Linked DNA regions of Homo sapiens: regions 2 and 3 are each linked to region 1. The links come from fine-mapping of genetic effects on gene expression. A gene starts in region 1. Each other region holds a variant in brackets. All regions are shown on one strand. Distances are from middle to middle. Region 1 holds the start of FKBP7 (FKBP prolyl isomerase 7). Region 2 overlaps PRKRA (protein activator of interferon induced protein kinase EIF2AK2). Region 3 overlaps PLEKHA3 (pleckstrin homology domain containing A3).

The links. PIP is the estimated chance that this variant, and not a neighbour inherited with it, causes the effect. A credible set is the group of variants that fine-mapping cannot tell apart.
Region 2: its variant is the best candidate, but not a certain one, in a credible set for the expression of FKBP7 in left ventricle (GTEx, PIP 0.77).
Region 3: its variant is the best candidate, but not a certain one, in a credible set for the expression of FKBP7 in tibial artery (GTEx, PIP 0.84).

Annotation. Positions count from the first base shown.
Region 1 is chr2:178,477,469-178,480,238 of GRCh38, reverse strand. It overlaps FKBP7 (FKBP prolyl isomerase 7), which reads left to right and starts at 1,639. Exons shown (of 4, transcript NM_181342.3): 1 at 1,639-1,960. The coding sequence starts at 1,740. RefSeq lists a silencer at 1-28.
Region 2 is chr2:178,445,527-178,448,296 of GRCh38, reverse strand. PRKRA (protein activator of interferon induced protein kinase EIF2AK2) reads left to right here. Exons shown (of 8, transcript NM_003690.5): 3 at 711-792. Among named protein-coding and RNA genes, the nearest start is that of PRKRA, 4.3 kb to the left of the region's middle. The variant C/T (reference allele first, on the strand shown) is at 1,495.
Region 3 is chr2:178,497,268-178,500,037 of GRCh38, reverse strand. PLEKHA3 (pleckstrin homology domain containing A3) reads right to left here. Exons shown (of 8, transcript NM_019091.4): 6 at 784-827. Among named protein-coding and RNA genes, the nearest start is that of PLEKHA3, 18 kb to the right of the region's middle. The variant G/A (reference allele first, on the strand shown) is at 1,080.

The DNA of each region.
Region 1 (2,770 bases):
GGCTGACCGCCCCCGGGGGACAAGACCTTCGAGCTCCGCTGCGCGCGCAGCCCCGGTGCCTACCTAAGGAGGAGCTGCCCGCACACTCATCCCGCGGGCACTTAGTTCTCTCGGGTTTTCCTGGGTTTTCTTCAGAAATACATAATATCCTGTTTCTTCATGAAATCCTGTTTTTATTTTACATAAAATCCTGTTTTTTCTTCAAAAATACATAAAAGCCTTCCTATTTCTGTTTGCTTCGTATTTTCCTCATATTCAAGGGGTCTGAAATTATCTCCTAGGAAGGCAATGTGCAGCAGACGGGGTCCTCTGACAAGGAATGGCGAGGGCCCCCAAGGAACTGTCATCACGCCGATAACCTTGGATAGCCACAATTTTATTTAGAATATAAAACATGGAACTCGACTTCGGAATTTTAGTCTAGAAATGGGGACTTCCCCCTAGCTTTTATGATTTTTGAAACTCCTGCTTGGACGCAATTGTCATCTTGCATAATCGACAGTAATTTTCAGGTTTATGGAATTTTGCAAACTTTAAGCAAAGCACATCAATCAGGCTCAGTGCTGCGGCTTTTCTTCGCATCACCGAGGTAGAATAGCACCTCTACTCCCAGAACTTAATCCAGGCGAATGCAGAAGGCCTTTGCTGGTTTTCTGGTTTGGGTAGTCTTTGGGTATTCACTTGGAAACAAGGCGAATTGATGGATGGATAGAGTGATGGATGGATATGTAATAAATATAATATAGTTCAATGACAGGATCCAGATGGTGGGTGTAGGAGAGTTTACTGTAGAATTCAACTTTCTGTGTATTTTAAAGGTTTTCATACTAAAATTGGTGGTGAAGTGGTGTTGTCACACAGATTTGACCAAATCCCTGCTGCGTATTAGCTGTGAGATTGGGACAACATGCCCAATACTCAAGTTTTCTTGACTGATGTGGACAATTACGTATCCCATGGGATGGTACAAAAAAGTCAAAAGAACATTCCCCGCACTACCAGAGGCCCTCGAATCAAGGGCGGCCCCGAGTGGCGGGGAAAAGAAATGCAAGCCAGCGGAGGATGCTGAATTGTGGAGGTCGGCTCTCGGAAACGCCTGCAGCCAGGCAGAGGAGTTGCGGTACCGCAGTTTCGTTGCATCGGGCTGGCCTTCAGGTTGTGCGACTCAGCCTGGAACCTCTGAATGCAAGATTCCGACCTGAGAATGCGCTTCAAGGACACCTCCGAAGCACCCAGAAAGCCACCGCCAGCCTATTTTTTACGCTCCTTTTCCAGCATGCCTCTCCCTCCCCCCAGTATCTATCTGCTCGTTCCCTAGGGGTCTTAGAAGCCTTTTGCTTCCAGAAATGACAACCATATTCCCTGACTCTACGACATCCCAGGCTGTTTATTTCGTCTTATGCCAGTTTCATTTTAGAAAATGCGAATGTTGTCACCGAACCCTGAGGAAACCTGCTGTAAAATACGCGGGTTTAGCGAGAAGAAGCGGAGCGAGTGTGCGTTGCGATCTTAAAGACTGAGGACAGCCAGCCCGAGGGCCTAGAAACAGCGTTAACCGCGCTGAGCCCGCTGCGGGAGGCGGAGGGGTTGGGGCCATGAGAGGGCGGGGCCGCATCTATGGCCCCGCCCCGGCCCTTTGTGACGCAGGACAACGCCTGCCACGCGTCGGAACTCGGCCGCGGGACATCCACGGGGCGCGAGTGACACGCGGGAGGGAGAGCAGTGTTCTGCTGGAGCCGATGCCAAAAACCATGCATTTCTTATTCAGATTCATTGTTTTCTTTTATCTGTGGGGCCTTTTTACTGCTCAGAGACAAAAGAAAGAGGAGAGCACCGAAGAAGTGAAAATAGAAGTTTTGCATCGTCCAGAAAACTGCTCTAAGACAAGCAAGAAGGGAGACCTACTAAATGCCCATTATGACGGCTACCTGGCTAAAGACGGCTCGAAATTCTACTGCAGGTAGGAAATGCTGCGAGCTGCCCGTGCGTCCAGTTGCACAAAATCTTGCCTGCCTCCACCAAGCGGAAGCCTCATTGGTTGGTTGGTTGGGGTTTTATTTTTTAACGGTAAAAGTTGAGCCCTTTATTCATTAAAAAAAATCACATTATATGGCAGTGTTTCTCTAATAAACTGAATATTTTTATTTAAAGTATTGAAAATGTTGTGGCAATAAATTATCAAAAATACGATACATCCACACACACATCAACCACCACCATTACCCTTGGGACCTCCAGAATTAAATCAAGGTTCTGCCTATAAGGATGTTCACATTTTTCCCTTGCCAGAAGTATTGAGTCTTTACGGAGGAATACATGGAATAAAGAGATTTAATTCTGGCCTTCAGAAGCACGATTTTTATAGGTTGTGGCCACTTTCTATCAAGAAAAACAGTTACTTCCCTGGTGACTTCTGGTGGGCCCTGCTCCCTCATTCCACCTGGTGCCTACTCTGATTTAATTGATGGCTTATTACTCAGAGGGAGAATCTTTTCTTTACCCTGTAAAGATAGGACTGGGAAAAACAGTTCCATCCATTTAGAATAAAATAGAGAAATTTAATAAGAATTTATACAATTTTATAATTTAATAAGAATTTAATAAATTATATCATTAGAATTTAATAAGAAAATATACCATTTTAAATTACTATTAAAATGACTTTTTGAGGCTAAAACTGCCCTATCATTTTTTTACAACAAACCCAGGGAGTTAAATGAGTTCTTTGTACAAGCCATGCACCTAGTTAGGGGCTGGAGACCCATTAAAA
Region 2 (2,770 bases), 32 kb after region 1:
AGTTTGAACTTAAAAGGAAAAAGATGGAATTTATCATTTGCCATTGTGATTGCTTACTGAAATTAGACATCAGTCTTATCCCCAGTCCCAACTTAGCTACCCATGCAGAAGATACAGACCGTCCAGAAGATACATAACAAGCTGTCACCTTATTCCATAAAACTCTTTCCTGTTGTACCCAACACATAATCATGACTGCTCAGCCTAGCAAAGCAGTTTGATACGTTATAGGACAGGCTGTCAGAATAAAATTATGCACATTTTGCTATCAAACAATTCTGCTGTAAATGGTTCCTTTAAAAGAAACTTCTTGCTGCAGAAGAATTTCCCCTCCAGGAATAAAGGAAGAGTAAAATACTAATCTGCATTTCTTCAGAGGTGTGACACGGTCTACTTTATTACCATGTTATATAATAAACATATATAATGTAGAAATAAGGATTTTTATGCAGGTATGCATAGAATTATATAGAACTTTAAAAAGTTATTTTTTAAAATTTTTTCACATGGTGAATATTTTATTACAGTATATAACCATGTAGTATATAACATGTACATATTTTTATGTACAGTATATAACGTACATATTTTTATTACCTAGTATGTGTATGTAAAATCTATAGTGACTTTGTTTTGTGTATTGAAAACATCTTTGTAAGCTGCACATTTTTGTGGGAGATAAAGACTTCTTTTTTTAAATCTTAATTCAGGTGAAGGTACAAGTAAGAAGCTGGCGAAACATAGAGCTGCAGAGGCTGCCATAAACATTTTGAAAGCCAATGCAAGTATTTGGTGAGCTAAATTTCTTTGTATTCAGCAGCTCAAAAATATCATGGCTGAGGTAAGATTAAAAATTTGAACATGCTTACAAAAGCAACAAAGTGAACAGTTGTTAGCATCCTACCTCTCAAATTCTATTTCCTTATGAAAACTTATCATCCATTAAAGAAAACTTTATCCAATCAAATCCAGCAATTAGCTATTAAATGAAGGTGCTCATGAACTAGGCTTTACTGTTTTTTTTTTTTTAATGGGATACAACAGTAGAAAATCAGTGCTTCTTGCAAATATTAATATTAACATTTTGTATTTAGACTTTGATTATTTCTACATTGAAGAAAACAAAGTGTGAGATGGAGAAAGATCCACTAAAAGTACTCTTTTGGGAATTCTAATTTTGAAGAAGCAGGCAGAGGTTTTCTTTTATTATATAATGTATACCAAAAGAAGAGAATGTTAAGTGGGATATTAATTCTTGACATATCTTTCTAAAGTAAGATTTTTTTTTTTTTTTTTTTTTTTTTGAGACGGAGTCTCGCTCTGTCGCCCAGTCTGGAGTGCAGTGGCGGGATCTCGGCTCACTGCAAGCTCCGCCTCCCGGGTTCACGCCATTCTCCTGCCTCAGCCTCCCAAGTAGCTGGGACTACAGGCGCCCGCCACTACGCCCAGCTAATTTTTTGTATTTTTAGTAGAGACGGGGTTTCACCGTTTTAG[C/T]CGGGATGGTCTCGATCTCCTGACCTCGTGATCCGCCAGCCTCGGCCTCCCAAAGTGCTGGGATAGATTTTTTACTACTTTAGGTGTTTCTAGATAGAATATTGGTCCTGGAGCATCTCACATATTAAAGTAGTGTCCACTGGGTGCACTCTGGAGCTTGGCATGCTTTCAAGTTCTTCTTGTGCATACACTTACATATGCCTGAAGTACGATCTGTGTAATCAGCTTATAGTTGACAGTAGAGACCCAGGGAATTTGGGATGGGTTTTTTGTTCCCTAGTCATAGAAAGGCTTTTGGATTAGGGGTGTAGTTAGGTTCTCATGTAGTATTCCTCTCTTTTTGTAAATCATTCTAAACCGTTTGGGTAGTTTAGAACTAACCAGTGACATGGCAACCCTCTAGATAAGCAGCTGCCCAAGACAAGCCTTGCATTTCACAAGATGATGCTTGATTCTCTAGGGTCATGCATTATAATTGATCTATGCCAGGCTGGGCGGGGTGGCTCACGCCTGTAATCCCAGCACTTTGGGAGGCTGAGGTGGGTGGATCACTTGAGGCCAGGAGTTCAAGACCAGCCTGGCCAACATGGCAAAACCCTGTCTCTACTAAAAATACAAAAATTAGCCAGGCATGGTGGCAGGCGCCTGTAATCCCAGCTACTTGGGTGGCTGAGGCACAAAAATCGCTTGAACCCGGGAGGCGGAGATTGCAGTAAGCTAAGATTGTGCCCCTGCACTCCAGCCTGTGAAACCCTGCCTCAAAGAAAAACAAGGCCAGGCATGGTGGCTCACACCTGTAATCCCAGCACTTTGGGAGGCCAAGGTGGGCAGATCACTTGAGTCAGGAGTTCGAGACCAGCCTGGCCAACATGGTGAAACCTCGTCTCTACTAAAAATACAAAAAATTAGCCGAGTGTGGTGGCACGCTCCTGTAATCCCAGCTGCTTGGGAGGCTGAGACACGAGAATTCCTTGGACCCAGTAGGCAGTGGTTGCAGTGAGCTGGGATCGCGCCATTGCACTCCAGCCTGGGCGACAGAGCAAGACTCTGTCTCCAAACAAACAAAAAAAAGACATGCCAAATGACATGGCAGGTATTGGGTTCTCCCCCACTGGTGATGGCCATGCTGTTTCTGTATAGCCTGAAGGTGAACCCAACCATTAAGTACATTTGTAGAAATGAGGGGTATGGAGTGTCCTTTCTGCATCTTGGCACTTTGTCAGCAAAAAAAGCTAACAAACTTTACTATATTTGTGCTTCTTGACAGATAAAATGG
Region 3 (2,770 bases), 20 kb before region 1:
ATGTACTTTAAAATATCAAGTGGTTTTCTCTCTTCAGCAAGATCTTTCTCTCTTAATGAAACAACAGCTCAGCATGAATAGATGATGCTATAAACAGCTGAGGTAAAATGAGCCCTAGCTGTGGAGTCTCAACACATCAAAAATGTACTTCTGTCTAACCATCACTTGATATACAGTCATGCGTCTCTTAATGACAAGGATGCATTCTGAGAAATCCATCGCTAGGTGATTCTGTCACTGTGCAAACATCACAGAGCGTGCTTACACAAAACTAGCTAGTATAGCCTACTACACATGTAGGCTATGTGGTATAGCCTATTGTTCTTAGGCTACAAACTTCTACTGCATGTTACTGTACTGAATGTTGTGGGTGACTGTAACAATGGTATTTGTGTATCTAAACATACCTAAACATGGAAAAAGTACAGTAAAAATATGGTATTATAATCTTATGAGGCCACTGTCACATATGCAGTCTATCATTGATGGAAAAGTCATTCTTCAATATATGACTGCATTTCAAACATCTAAAAAAGGTAAAATGGCTGGCAACGTGCTTACCTTGCTGGTTAATTCATTCATTTTTTTCTTTACTGACTACCTACTGAGGCCAGGCCCTTATACTAAATACTAGGAGATAAATACTGAGAGATAAAATGCTGGTTTTGAACCAGACCTAACCCATACAGAGTTTACATTCCACACCACTTGTTAAAGGCCCAAAGAACTTCCCTAGATGGATATAATTTGAGAGAACTTAGTCAGAAGAAAAGGTTCTTTTACCTCTCTGAACTGCAAGAACCAGGGTGGCTGACAGAACGCTTCATCTAGAAATTTTGGAAAAAAAAAAAAAAATTAGCATAATCCATATGTCAAGTAGAATCATGCAGCTCTAATTTACTATTATCATAATAAACATAAATTTACTCAGAGAAAAAGATAACTGGCAAAAAAAAATTTAATCTTTCACAGACTCAAGCAACATAATTAGTACAACATCAAGCTTTCTCCCTAATAACCATTAATTGGAATCTTTTTCAACACACACCAAAAACATGCTGGATTCTTTTTTCAAAAGT[G/A]AAAACCAAATTTTATACATAATACATATATATGTGTGTGTATACAAATATAAAAAACAGGGTATATAACTATAAATAAGATATAAATGTGATAAAAAAGGAGTATCTAGCAAGCCACAAAATATTCTAATAAATATCTCTTTTTTAAAGGACAGTAGTAGAGTCTGGCAGCAAAGCTTCTCTTTATCATTAATTATTTAGGTAGCTGATATACAAATGTTCTAAAGTGTGGTTTTCATGGAAAACAGCATTAATAATTCAAGACTTTAAAGAACTCAGAAGAAGAACCCTAAGTCTCAGTGGATTTCCAAAACATATATTTAAAAAAATAAAGAATACCTAATTAAGCAGAACATTTAAAAAATATGATAAATACTAAACATAATTTGGAAGATCCAACTACTCCATCAAAATATAAAGGGAGGCAGCCAAGTAAAACTGATTATTTCAAAGTTTAACATGGTAGCAGAAAAACAAAGATTATACTAAAGGTTTAGGGTGGTTGCTTTTGTATACATGAGCCCAAGAGTCTAACAAGCCCAGGTCTAACATTGATGTTATGCAAATGCCTTCTATATTTGGAACATGAGCCACTAGTTGCTCTGAGAAATACCAGTTGAAATGCTAAGAGATATGACCCACCCAGTTTGTAGTCTGGGAACATCTGATAAGATTGACATTAAGATGCAAATGGCCACTAACATCTCCTTTAACAGAAATTACTTCCTTTAGGCTTACTAACCCAAGGACATCCCCACTATAATAATCACTCAATCTGTAGGTCCAGTGATGGTTGTCTGAACTTTTATGACAACTTGAAATAAAGTTAAATGCAAGTTTACTCTAAGATGAATTCATTGAGATTAACTATATAAAGTGCTTATAAAGATCAGATTAAAGCACTTACAAAGATCAGATTAAATTGTTTTGGAATACTCAAATTTTCAGCTTTATTTTTCATATAAATAAATGTAAGTTTTTCATATAAATAAATAAACAATGTTATTTAAAAAAAAAACATGAAGATTGTCTGACCTTACTTTCCATGCTATTTGTCTCTAGAACTAATAATTATTTTAGTTTCTTATATGTAAAATACGCATTGACTTCTCTGGACTACAGAGCATTTGTAACATAAGGGATTTCCTGAGAAGTTCAATGCAGAAGCAAGGCAACTCTGAGGTGTTTTACTGCATTTGACTCTAAAAAGTACAGCTTAAAAAAAAAAAGTGTACCCTTTGTCTATCAACCTCAGGAACACAGCACTACACATCCATCTCAAAACACTGGTTTCTTTGTTCACACATACTTGTTAATTAACAGTTTATAGCATATCTACAATTGTCCTAAAAAGCAACATTGTCAAACTATGTTTTACTCAACACCACACCACAGTCCTGTAAGATGGTATTAAAAAATACATAAAATGGGCCAGGCGCAGTGTCTCACGCCTGTAATCCCAACACTTTGGAAGACTAAGGCGGGCAGATCACGAGGTCAGGAGATCGAGACCATCCTGGCTAACATGGTGAAACCCCGTCTCTACTAAAAATACAAAAAATTAGCTGGGCATGGTGGCAGGCGCCTGTGGTCCCATCTGCTCAGGAGGCTGAGGCAGGAGAATGGCATGAACCCAGGAGGCGGAGCTTGCAGTGAGCTGAGATTGCGCCACTGCACTCCAGCCTGGGCGA